Linked DNA regions of Homo sapiens: region 1 is linked to region 2. The links come from fine-mapping of genetic effects on gene expression. A gene starts in region 2. The other region holds a variant in brackets. All regions are shown on one strand. Distances are from middle to middle. Region 1 overlaps POPDC2 (popeye domain cAMP effector 2). Region 2 holds the start of CD80 (CD80 molecule).

Evidence for each region.
Region 1: its variant is fine-mapped to the expression of CD80 in thyroid (GTEx, PIP 0.97).

What each region holds. Positions count from the first base shown.
Region 1 is chr3:119,645,274-119,650,652 of GRCh38, forward strand. POPDC2 (popeye domain cAMP effector 2) reads right to left here. Exons shown (of 4, transcript NM_001369919.2): 3 at 2,846-3,395. The coding sequence ends at 2,889. Among named protein-coding and RNA genes, the nearest start is that of POPDC2, 13 kb to the right of the region's middle. The variant C/T (reference allele first, on the strand shown) is at 2,763.
Region 2 is chr3:119,557,161-119,562,491 of GRCh38, forward strand. It overlaps CD80 (CD80 molecule), which reads right to left and starts at 2,454. Exons shown (of 7, transcript NM_005191.4): 1 at 2,280-2,454; 2 at 469-768. The coding sequence starts at 568. It overlaps LOC107986118 (a long non-coding RNA gene), which reads left to right and starts at 3,270. Exons shown (of 2, transcript XR_001740861.2): 1 at 3,270-3,585; 2 at 5,076-5,166. RefSeq lists a silencer at 762-1,056 and enhancers at 762-1,056, 1,418-1,577, 1,848-1,907, 2,678-2,727, 5,209-5,331.

The DNA.
Region 1 (5,379 bases), 88 kb after region 2:
CACTGTAGGCCGGGCGCAGTGGCTCACGCCCGTAATCCCAGCACTTTGGGAGCCCGAGGCGGGCGGATCACCACGTCAGGAGATGGAGACCATCCTGGCTAACACGGTGAAACCCTGTCTCTACTAAAAATAGAAAAAATTAGCCAGGCACGGTGGCGGGCGCCTATAGTCCCAGCTACTCGGGAGGCTGAGGCAGGAGAATGGCGGTGAACCCGGGAGGCGGAGCTTGCAGTGAGCCGAGATCGCGCCACTGCGCTGCAGCCTGGGTGACAAAGCGAGACTCCGTCTCAAACAAAAAAAAAAAAAAAAAGAAAGAAAAAGAAAAGGAAAAGGAAAAAAAAATCTGCACTGTAATCACATGGTAGGTGATAGATTCTTCACAGGCATAGAATGGAGGGAACTGCTAGTTAAACAAGACCCACCACCACAAGGGCTGAGGAGAGTCCCAAGGTGCCAGAGAAATTGTAGTGAAATATCACAGAGAGTTCTTGCTGAAAGACACTCAGATGTCCTGGGGCTTGTGTCTACTGTACTGCGGACTGACTACTCCTCTTTTCTTCCTTTGAAAAACTTATCCTTGCCTTCTCAGATCAATCCAAGGGGGTTCCTGGGGACAGCTGGTCCAACACGCTCAAATGAAGAAAGTAAGGTTTAGTGAGGTATGGTTTGCAAAAAGTCACATATTTGATTAGTAGCAAAGCCAGACATAGAAGCCAGGACTTTGGACTCCCAGTCCTGGCCTCTTTCTCATTTACCATGCTGCCTGCCTCCTGATGTTTGGAAAACATTCCTAAAGCTGGGGATTTTACACCTTCACTTGAATGGTTTTCTTTATAGGCAGAGGGAAAAGTACTGATCTTTGGAAGAGTTAGGATTAAAAACTAATAAGATGGGGGTACAGGGTGTTTAGGAGGAAGAATAGATACAGCAAGGCAAAAAAGGTGGGAAAAAGAAAAAAGGAGGTAATAGGAGAGATAAATATATGAACAATAAAATGGAAGAAAACAAGAGACAAGTGAAGAGGGAGAAATGAACTGAGAAGACATAGAAAATGGACACTTAAGAGCAGCAAACTGGCCAGGCATGGTGGCTCATGCCTGTAATCCTAACACTTCGGGAGACCAAGGCAGGAGGATTATTTGAGCCCAGGAGTTCGAGAACAACCTGGGCAACATGGGGAGAGTTTGTCTCTACAAAAAAATTTAAAAATTAAACATTATCCAGGCACAGCGACATGTGCCTGTAATCCCTGTTACTTGGGAGGCTGGGATGGGAGGATCGCTTGAGCTTTTGGAGGTAGAGATTGCAGTGAGCCGACATCATGCCACTGCACTCCATCCTGAGTGACAGAGTGAGACCCTGTCTCAAGAAAGAAAAGGAAAAAAGAACAGAACATCAAACTGAGGCAATCAAGGACTGAGAAGAAATTGGAGAAGAAAGAAGAGAAAAATAGAACCAAGAAAAGAGAAGAAAACCAGGAAGAACAACATGAGAAAACAGAGAGCTGCTGTGAGTCGAAGAGAGAGTGTATAGGTGGATGGGCAAGTTGGACCAAGAGGGATCCATAGGACATAAGGAGCATGCGTGGATGCAGGATGAACGAGTAGGAAGGCGAACAGCTGCACAGAGGGAAAGGAGTGATCAGAGTTGTCAATGCACACTTCGGGGAACTCAACAAAGTGATCTGGGGTGTTAGATTGATCCTTGGAATTACCTCAGAATGAGCTGAACTATGGTTCTAAGGATGCTGGTAACACAGGAGATTGTAAATTCCATATCTACAAAACTAAATCTCTAACCTTTCATCAGTCATCTCTATGGCCTCTTTCATCATTTATATAACCTGTTTTTCAAAATAGACAAACATTCACTCATTCATTTCATGTACTCTGGAGGCCTTCCTCACTGGGCTAGTTTCTCAGGTAATTTATTGGTGCTTTCTGAAGAACCATGGGAGGCGCCTTCCAAATTGGGAACAATGGGATTTTCCTCAGGAAATTCAGGCCTACATCATGGTTGGGTGGAGTTACAGAGAAAAACATCACAGTATTATGAGGGCAGCCAGGGAAACATGAGAGCAATTTCCCAGAACCACTGGGCACAGCCTTTCTTGTAGACTCTCTGGGAGGGAAATTCTGTGAGGGAAATCCTGCACGCACTGTTAGGCCCTCCAGGATTTATGCACATCCTACCTCCCACAGGTGTGGGTGACTGGGGAAAGCCAGGCTGCCATATACCTATCTGATCATAGTAACATTTAATCATAGCAGTATCTAGTCCTCTGTCTGTGTGATCAACAAACACATTCTCCACTGGGTGAGAGGAAAGCAAGATGAGGACATTTTCCTCCCCGAGCTATTAGCTCATAATCACAATCCTCTTTAAAATATGCAGTTTTAACAGAGATGCCTGCCCAGTCTAGGCTAAATAACAACTGCTTTCCAGGACGGGCTCTGTATCAGGAAAGACAAGCAATCAGAATTAGAACCCTGCCACATTCTTTTTCTTTTAAAATGCATGCCACAAATAAAAGCCCCTTAAGCCCCAGCTGTGGCCTCAGCTATTAGAATAAACTTGCAAAAAAACAGCAATCTACCTTCCTGCTCAACGTATCAACCAGCCCACTTTCTAAAATGCAATCAAGTTAATAACGAATGAGTTTTTAAAATCCCTTCATGCCTTGCATGCACCCGGAGTGAGTTGCTATCTTCAAAGTTGGGTTAATGCCACTTTCTGTGAGTCCTCTAAGAGGAAATGTTCCA[C/T]GAATGATTTTTTTTGCCCTAACAAGCTGAGTTAAGGCCAGCCATTGACAGGAATGTGCAGCGGCTGCCTTCTGAGTACTTACATAGGATCCTGAGCCGGTGGCTGTGCCCATGTTAGTTCTCCCTTCACCTCATGTACTCCCCATCACTCCTATAATCCATAAACGATTCTGATCCTGACACCTCCTCAAAATCCTCCAGCACCAGACTGGTGGAGTCCTCACCCAGTATGCCACTGTCTGGCCTGGACAACCTGGCCCGGGTAGGAGGTGCAGGAAAGTTGGTGGTAGCTGGAGGGGTAGAACAAGGGGGTGTTTGCTGGAGAGAGGTGGGTGTGGCCTGAGGAGGGGACACAGCTGGCTCACAGACTTCCTCATCACCCTTCTCGGACTCTGGTCCAGCATCTGCAGCAGTGGGACCCAGGACATGGTAGAGGCTGGGAAGGCGGATGTCAAAGCGCAGCCCAAACTTAGCAAAGAGCTTGTCATTGAGAGTGTAGAGCTTCTCTGAGATGTCATATCCCAGCAGAGCCGAGAAGAGGCAGGAGATGTATCGCTCTTTGGTCAGAAGAAGATGGAGACTTTTCCGGGGCCAGGAAATGTAGCTACATGAGGTCTCAGCAGTCAGAGTGACCTGAGAGGGGTCAGAAGCAGACAATAAAAGTTTAAACTAGAAAATTTGTCCATGCTGAGCACAGAGATCATTCAGTCACTTGGCAAACAGCTGTACTTTTACTGAAGAAGCTGTGTGGGAGTACCCCTCTATGGCCTTGCCTGGAGGAGGTCTAGTGGATGACTTTCACTTGTGTGCACTGATATGGGGGGGTCCTGTGTCAGGAGCCCTGGGATCAGCCATTCACTCACTCACCCATCACCTCCTGAAGCCTCAGTTTCCACATCCACTTTCCTCAACTGTAATTCTGTGGTTCCGTGGCTAATGCCACTAATGACTGCAGAAAGTTCTGAGTCTTATGATTTTAAGATAGAGAAAGAAGGGGCCTTCTTGTGCTCTGAAGAGTGGTTGAAATGCTGACAACTATTCATTTTAAGAATGAGGAAGGGTAAGATATTGGGGTAGGGACATAAAAAGAGTTGGAAAGTTGAGTTTGAGAAAAAGCTTCTGATGAGGTATGCCAAGCTACATCAGGATCCCAAGCCTGGGATTCAGGTTGGGATACGAGCAAGTTACGAAATTGCTCGTAACTTGGCCATTTCAAGTAACCAAAAGGATCTGATGACTGAAATCAGAAAAAGGGCATAGCGGAAGACAAACTCTAAAGGGTAGAAAATCAAAGGGCACCCCATTCTCCATTTGTTTATTCATCTAGGAATTTCTGAGTACTCACTATGTGCCCATGATGCAAAGCTAAATTACGCTTGCATGGGAAATAAGCAATAACGTGTGCCTAGCATGCAGCAGGTGTTTGATAAATCCTTGTTAAAATAATGATAAGTGGTAAAGCTGGGGTTAAAATGGAAACATGCTTAGGACAGTGCAGGAAAAGGGTGCAGAATCACACAATTTTTAATAATCTAATTGACCCTAATACTTTGGGCTGGCAGAGTTCATGATATATTTTTGTGGATGGAGACAGTGGAAATGATGATGATAATGATGTTAGCAGCTAATATTTGTCAAGAGGTGCCAGGCGTTGTGTTAAGCACTTTATATGAATTGTCAAATTTAAAGTAGGGTAGCTTTCCAAACATTCTTTATTAGAGATTATATATAATCCTTTTCATTCCTGTATTGCCTACTGGATCTCCCATTACCCTCCTCTTCTCTTCTTTCCTTTCTGCTATACCCCTCCCCCACGTCCTTTATTCATTTCCTCCTCTCAACTTTTCTCCACTAATTGCTAGCACTGCAATCAGGACCTAAACTACGTTATCGAGGCCAGAAGTGGTTTCATGTTTCAGCTTTACCTCTATCAGTTGTATGATGTCAGATAAATTACTTAATCTCTCTTGCCTCATGAGAAAGAATTCTGAAAATAATACAATCTGTCCATTACTAATAGTTCAGCAAGTAGTTGTCACATCTGCCATGGCCTGTACCTTAGATGTACTTATGAACAATTCCCAAACAAGAAATCAGAGTACCAAATATGAAGCACATGTGTTTGAGCAAGAACTACGCCGAATGTAAATAATGTCTTAAAGCCAAACACAAAGACTGTGAACCTTCTTAGAAATATGCTGTACTTCTTCCATCTTAAAATAAAACAAAATTTTACAAATAAAAATTCTTTTTCTCGAATTCACTTCCCTGGCTAGCTATCACTCCACTAATTTGCTTCCCTTTTTAGCAAAACTCATGAAGAAAAAAAAACCTGTTTATACTTAACTGTCTCCAATTCCTCTCTTCTCACTCTCTTAAACCAATAAGACTTTGTCCCTAGCAGTCCACAAAGACTGTTCCTGTTAAGGTCACCAATGACCTCTAAGCTGCTGAGTCTGATGGTCAGTTTTCATGGCATCCATCAATTTCCCCTTCCTCTTTGATATATCTTCTTCACTTGGTTCCCAGGATGCCATACACTCCTTGCCCAATCTCATGATTGTTCCTTTTCAAGCTCCTTTGCTGCTTCCTCCTTTCCTCTCCAACTCCTCACCAC
Region 2 (5,331 bases):
GAGGAATTGTCCTCAACTACTCTCCCGCCTTCAGATTGGAAAGAAGATCACCATTGTTCAATTTTAGAAGCAGGACACTTTCGCTGAGCTGTATCATGAAAACATAGTTTGGGACTAGACTCCGAGGCCAGTATCGGCACATCACAAAATGTAAATGAGCATCTAATATTCATGGAAGAGACCATTATGAATCGGCTGTATGGTTTTGTTAAAATAACACTGTCCCTTCCACGCTTCCTTGAAGGCCTGGGTTCTTGAGTTAACTTGGTTGCTAACTTGCTGTGTGATGATAGGCAGGTCCTTTAACCTCTTTGGACCACAGTCTTCTAATCTTTAAAATCTTCTGAAAACACCCTGAAGGTTCCTTCCAGCTTATAGGATAATAGAAGGGAGCAGCTCAGAGAACCCCATGTCCTTTCTCTTAACCCTGTAGCAGTTGACTCAGTTAAGTTCCTGAAAGTTGCTTACCTGAACAGAAGTGAGAAAGACCAGCCAGCACCAAGAGCTGAAAGAAATTGAGGTATGGACACTTGGATGGTGATGTTCCCTGCCTCCGTGTGTGGCCCATGGCTTCAGATGCTTAGGGTCAAAAGTGAAAGCCAACAATTTGGACCCAAGTAAGACCAGGGCACTTCCCAGGTGCAAAACAGGCAGGGCTGATGACAATCCAATTGCTCACGTAGAAGACCCTCCAGTGATGTTTACAAAACACACAGAGATTGGAGGGTGTTCCTGGGTCTCCAAAGGTTGTGGATTTAGTTTCACAGCCTGAAAAAGGAACAAATAAAAGTCATTCAGGAAGGAAGGTGTGCCTACTTTGAGTTGCAAAACTCTCGAGTTGCCTGCTAAAATTAATTGGAGAGCTTAACCTAAGCAACCTCTAAAGCAGGGCGTGACCCTGAGGAAAAGCGAATGGAAATTCTGTGAGGGGACCAGTTCCAAGAACCAACCACAGCCCTTCCATGAAAAGGCTTTCTACTTAATAGGTGGGGTGAAGATTTGGTTAGAAACAGGAGAGCTCTAAGGACCCTCCATATCTGTTAGCCAACCTGCAAAAGTTCAAATCCTCTTCTGAACATACCAAGAAACATAGAGCAGACAGTAAGGGTGTATTTTGTCCAAGGCAGGACCTAAGTTATGAAACAACTTCTTTCTTGACATATTAACATAAGAAAACAAGTATCTCAATTCTTTAAACCCTCTACTCAAATAATATATCATAAAGGGGTATGAGATCTCAATAACCAGAAAAGTCTATCCATAAAAAGGGAGGGAAAAAAAGACACTGCAGACGTTACTTATCAAAATTATGTACTCCAGGGCCAGGCGTGGTGGCTCACGCCTGTAATCCCAGCACTTTGGGAGGCTGAGGTGGGCGGATTACTTGAGGCCAGGAGTTCCAGACCAGCCTGGCCAACATGGCAAAACCCCATTTCTACCAAAAATACAAAAATTAGCCAGGTGTGGTGGTGGGTGCCTGTAATCCCAGCCACTTGGGAGGCTGAGGCACGAGAATTGCTTGAATCCAGGAGGTGGAGGCTGCAGTGAGCCAAGATGATTGCAACACTGCACTCCAGCCTAGGCGACAGAGTGAGACTCCATCTCAAAAAAAAAAAAAAAAAAAATTATGTACTGTCATGTGAGGTGGCTAGGGATTAATTTTTCCAGTAAATATGTCAAAATTGAGAAATGAAAATAAACACTGTGCTCCACTGTCACCCCTTCAGGCTGCTACCAGGACACAGCCCCGTGCTGCTCAGAGAATGCTTGAGTGTCCTCTTTGGAGACCACCCTAGAGCTAGAGTTCCAGCCACGCCATATTGTTTTATTAGCCATCATCCATTTTAGACAGGATTAGTTAAAAGAGACTTATTCACCAGAATTTGTTTTTCTTAAGATAGAATCTTGCTCTGTCACACAGGCTAGAGTGCAGTGGCGTGACCATAGCTCACCACAGTCTCAACCTCCCGAGCTCAAGCGATTTTCCCACTTTCACTAGAATTTTACTGGCTTGAGAAATTCAAATACGGCCCACAAAAACAATATTTGCTAGGATCTAGGATATTTTAAAATAATGGGCCACAATTCTCACTATGATGCTCCAAATATGTCGGGAAGCCACAGCCTCCTGTGGGAATGAGACCCTAAGGGTTCCTTTGAGGGCAAGCCTGGATCCAGGAGGTGGTAGCAGAGGTATTGTTTGTTTAAAAAGCAGTGAGGTTGCTGGTAACTAGTTCTACCAAGCTATCCCATAGTAAGATAATAGTAAATGTACTTACTTGCTGAAGAAAAATTCCACTTTTTCTTTAAATCCTTTGATTTCAGGGTAAGACTCCACTTCTGAGATGTTCTCTTCTTACAGTCTATAAAGCAATGACAAATCACTTTTTCTTTGGGTAATCTTCAGAGAGGCGACATTTCCCCTTCTAACTTCTGTTACTTTACAGAGGGTTTGAGTTCACTCAGTACTTGTCAGTGCCAGGAGTTGGACAGGGTGTTTGAAGAAGCGCCCTCTGCTGCCGTCTTCTTCTAGTTGCTTTTGTAGAGGCTGTGGCTGGGGCAAATCACACAGCAGCCTCCCTCACCACCGTGCATGGACTAACAAACATGAAACACCACGAGCACCAGGCGGCCTAGGGGAGGAGAAGAATGGTGCCCGAGAAGAGTGAGGGGCATCTGGCTAGCCTTGCTGTGTGATGGGAGGCCAGCTTCATGGGCTGGCTGTTTCTGTGCTGGTCTCAAGTTTTGTTTTAGCACCCAGAGTTACTCCTGAGTCCCTGCAGGAATAAGCTGTCAACCTCATATGTAGGGGACACTTTTGGGAGAGTGCTCAGCTCACAGGACCACCCAACTCTACTCCCACCTCTGAATCCCACCATCTTCAGAGAGTGGGCTCCTGCCAGCCACGCTGGACAGTGAATTCTGGTCACCCTAGCCACAGTTGAGTGCGCCTCTGGTGGGATGAGGAAGACTTTAGTCATGCCCATCACTCCCATTTCCAACTAGGTTGCCACCCACCCCTGTGTGTCCCTTTGTAGGATTCTGGAGCCCCTGTGAGTGAGCAGCTGACCCATGCTGGACCAGTGTACTTGTTTGCACAGGTGGAACCTGACAGCACCTTGCATGGGTTGCAGTGAGCCGAGATCACAACACTACAATCCAGCTTGGGTAACAGAGCAAGACTCCATCTCAAAAAAAAAAAAAAAAAAAAGACGCCATCCTTCCCACACCAGCCAGAAAGAGAGCAAACCGTGTGGGTGAGAAATACTGACTACAGCGGCGGCTTCCTTCATCTCAGCAACAAGTTTGTGGCAGAGCTTAGTGGATACCACCCTATTCACCTGAGATTTGGAATACTGAAGCTTTGGAAATCATGAAGGCAGAACTTGCTATGAAAGGACTCCACTGCACTGTCTCCTTCTGTATTGGCAGAAGGGGCCTAGTGAGCACCCTTCTTCACCTGTGTCTTGTTCTGGTCTCAGATGCATATTTTGAATAGTTGCAAGGAATATGGATGTGACAATTCCTGCCTTACCTCTAGTAGATCAACATTACATTTTCAAGTAAAGGGAACATAGATTGGAGGTAAGTTCATGTTTTCTATTTTCTTGAACATTTATTCAGATCAAAGAAATGTTTTCACTGATTTTAGCCACTTCTACTTGATACATTATTACAATGCACTGGAAGTGATTTTTTTTCCAGGTATTTAAAGTAATAGAAAGTTATAGATGTCAACTTAAAAGAGCAAAGAAATACAGAGTTTTAGAAATTTATTTTCTTTTTTTTTTTTTAGATGAAGTCTTTCTCTGCCGCCCAGGCTGGAGTGCAGTGGTGCAATCTTGGCTCACTGCAACCTCCGCCTCCTGGGTTCAAGCAATTCTTCTGCCTCAGCCTCCTGAGTAGCTGGGACTACAGGCGTGTGCCACCATGCCAGGCTAATTTTTAAATTTTTAGTAGAGATGGGGTTTCACCATATTGGCCAGGCTGGTCTCAAACTCCTGACCTTGTGATCCACCCTCCTCGGCCTCCCAAAGTGCTGGGATTACAGGCATGAGCCACTGCACCCAGCCGAGTTTTAGAAATTTCATGAGGGACTACATGAATACAAATTTTGACGATCACAGACACCCTCAAATTTTAAGAATCCCAGTGAAATCCTAACCTGCCTTGGAGAAACACACATTAAACAACTTTGCCATTAGCGCTTTGATGTGACTTAATCAAAGAGGCTGGAAGAAAGGAACACCAGGAAGGTACTTTACAGAGTTTCCCCAATCCTGATTGTAAAATTCAGAAGGCTTCTCTTCCAAGATTATGTACTAATGGGATGTGTTTAATTCCTCTTCCTCCTACAATGTGTCTAGGAGCATGACCTGTGGACCACAGATTTCTAAGGTAAATTTCTGGACACTGGAGGTGAGATGGATGAAGACGGGCAAAGGAAGCCGAACCCGAATACCTATATTACTGGAAAACAAAACAAAACAAAACAAAACCAAGTAAAAGATTTAAAAGGAGGCTGGGCACAGTGGCTCATGCCTGTAATCCCAGCACTTTGAGAGGCTGAGGTGGGCGGATCACTTGAGGCCAGGAGTTCGAGGCCAGCTGGCCAACGTGATGAAACCCCAGCTCTCCAAAAAAAAAAAAAAAACCAAAAAACTGGGCATAGTGGTGCATACCTGTAATCCCAGCTACTGGGAAGGCTGAGACATGAGACTTGCTTGAACTTCAGAGGCGGAGGTTGCAGTGAGCTAAGATTGTGCCATTGCACTCCAGCCTGGGTGACAGAGCAAGATTCTGTTTCAAAAACAAAACAAAACAAAACAAAAAAACTTTAAATGAGTTTGTTCTGAGGAGCAGACCCAGGGTTGGAGAAGAATAAAGCAGGAATTACTGCTCCTCAGTGTAAATTCTTTAGTGCCACTTATTTTTTTGTAAATCCATCCTTGGCTTTACTGTAATAAAAGTAAAAGAAATTCTTTTAAAAATAATTCACATAAAAATTCTTTTAAAAATTTTTATGTGAAAAATTGAAAGGATAAATTTATGAAAGTATATTTTTATAATTCTAGGGTGAGCAAGACACAAAACTTGGAAGCCACGAAAAAAGAAAAGATACACAGATTTGAATTCATAAAAATTAAAAATATTTGTACAATGAAAGACATTATAAATGAAATGAAAACACAATCACAGACTGTAGAGGACCCAGCAGGAAGAGATGACGAGAGGGAGATGCAGCTTTGTCACTCAGAGGTTGGTGCAGAGGCTGTTGCGACACCGTAGGGGAAGCCTGGCCCTTTGCTTTACCCCTGAACAGGATGATCT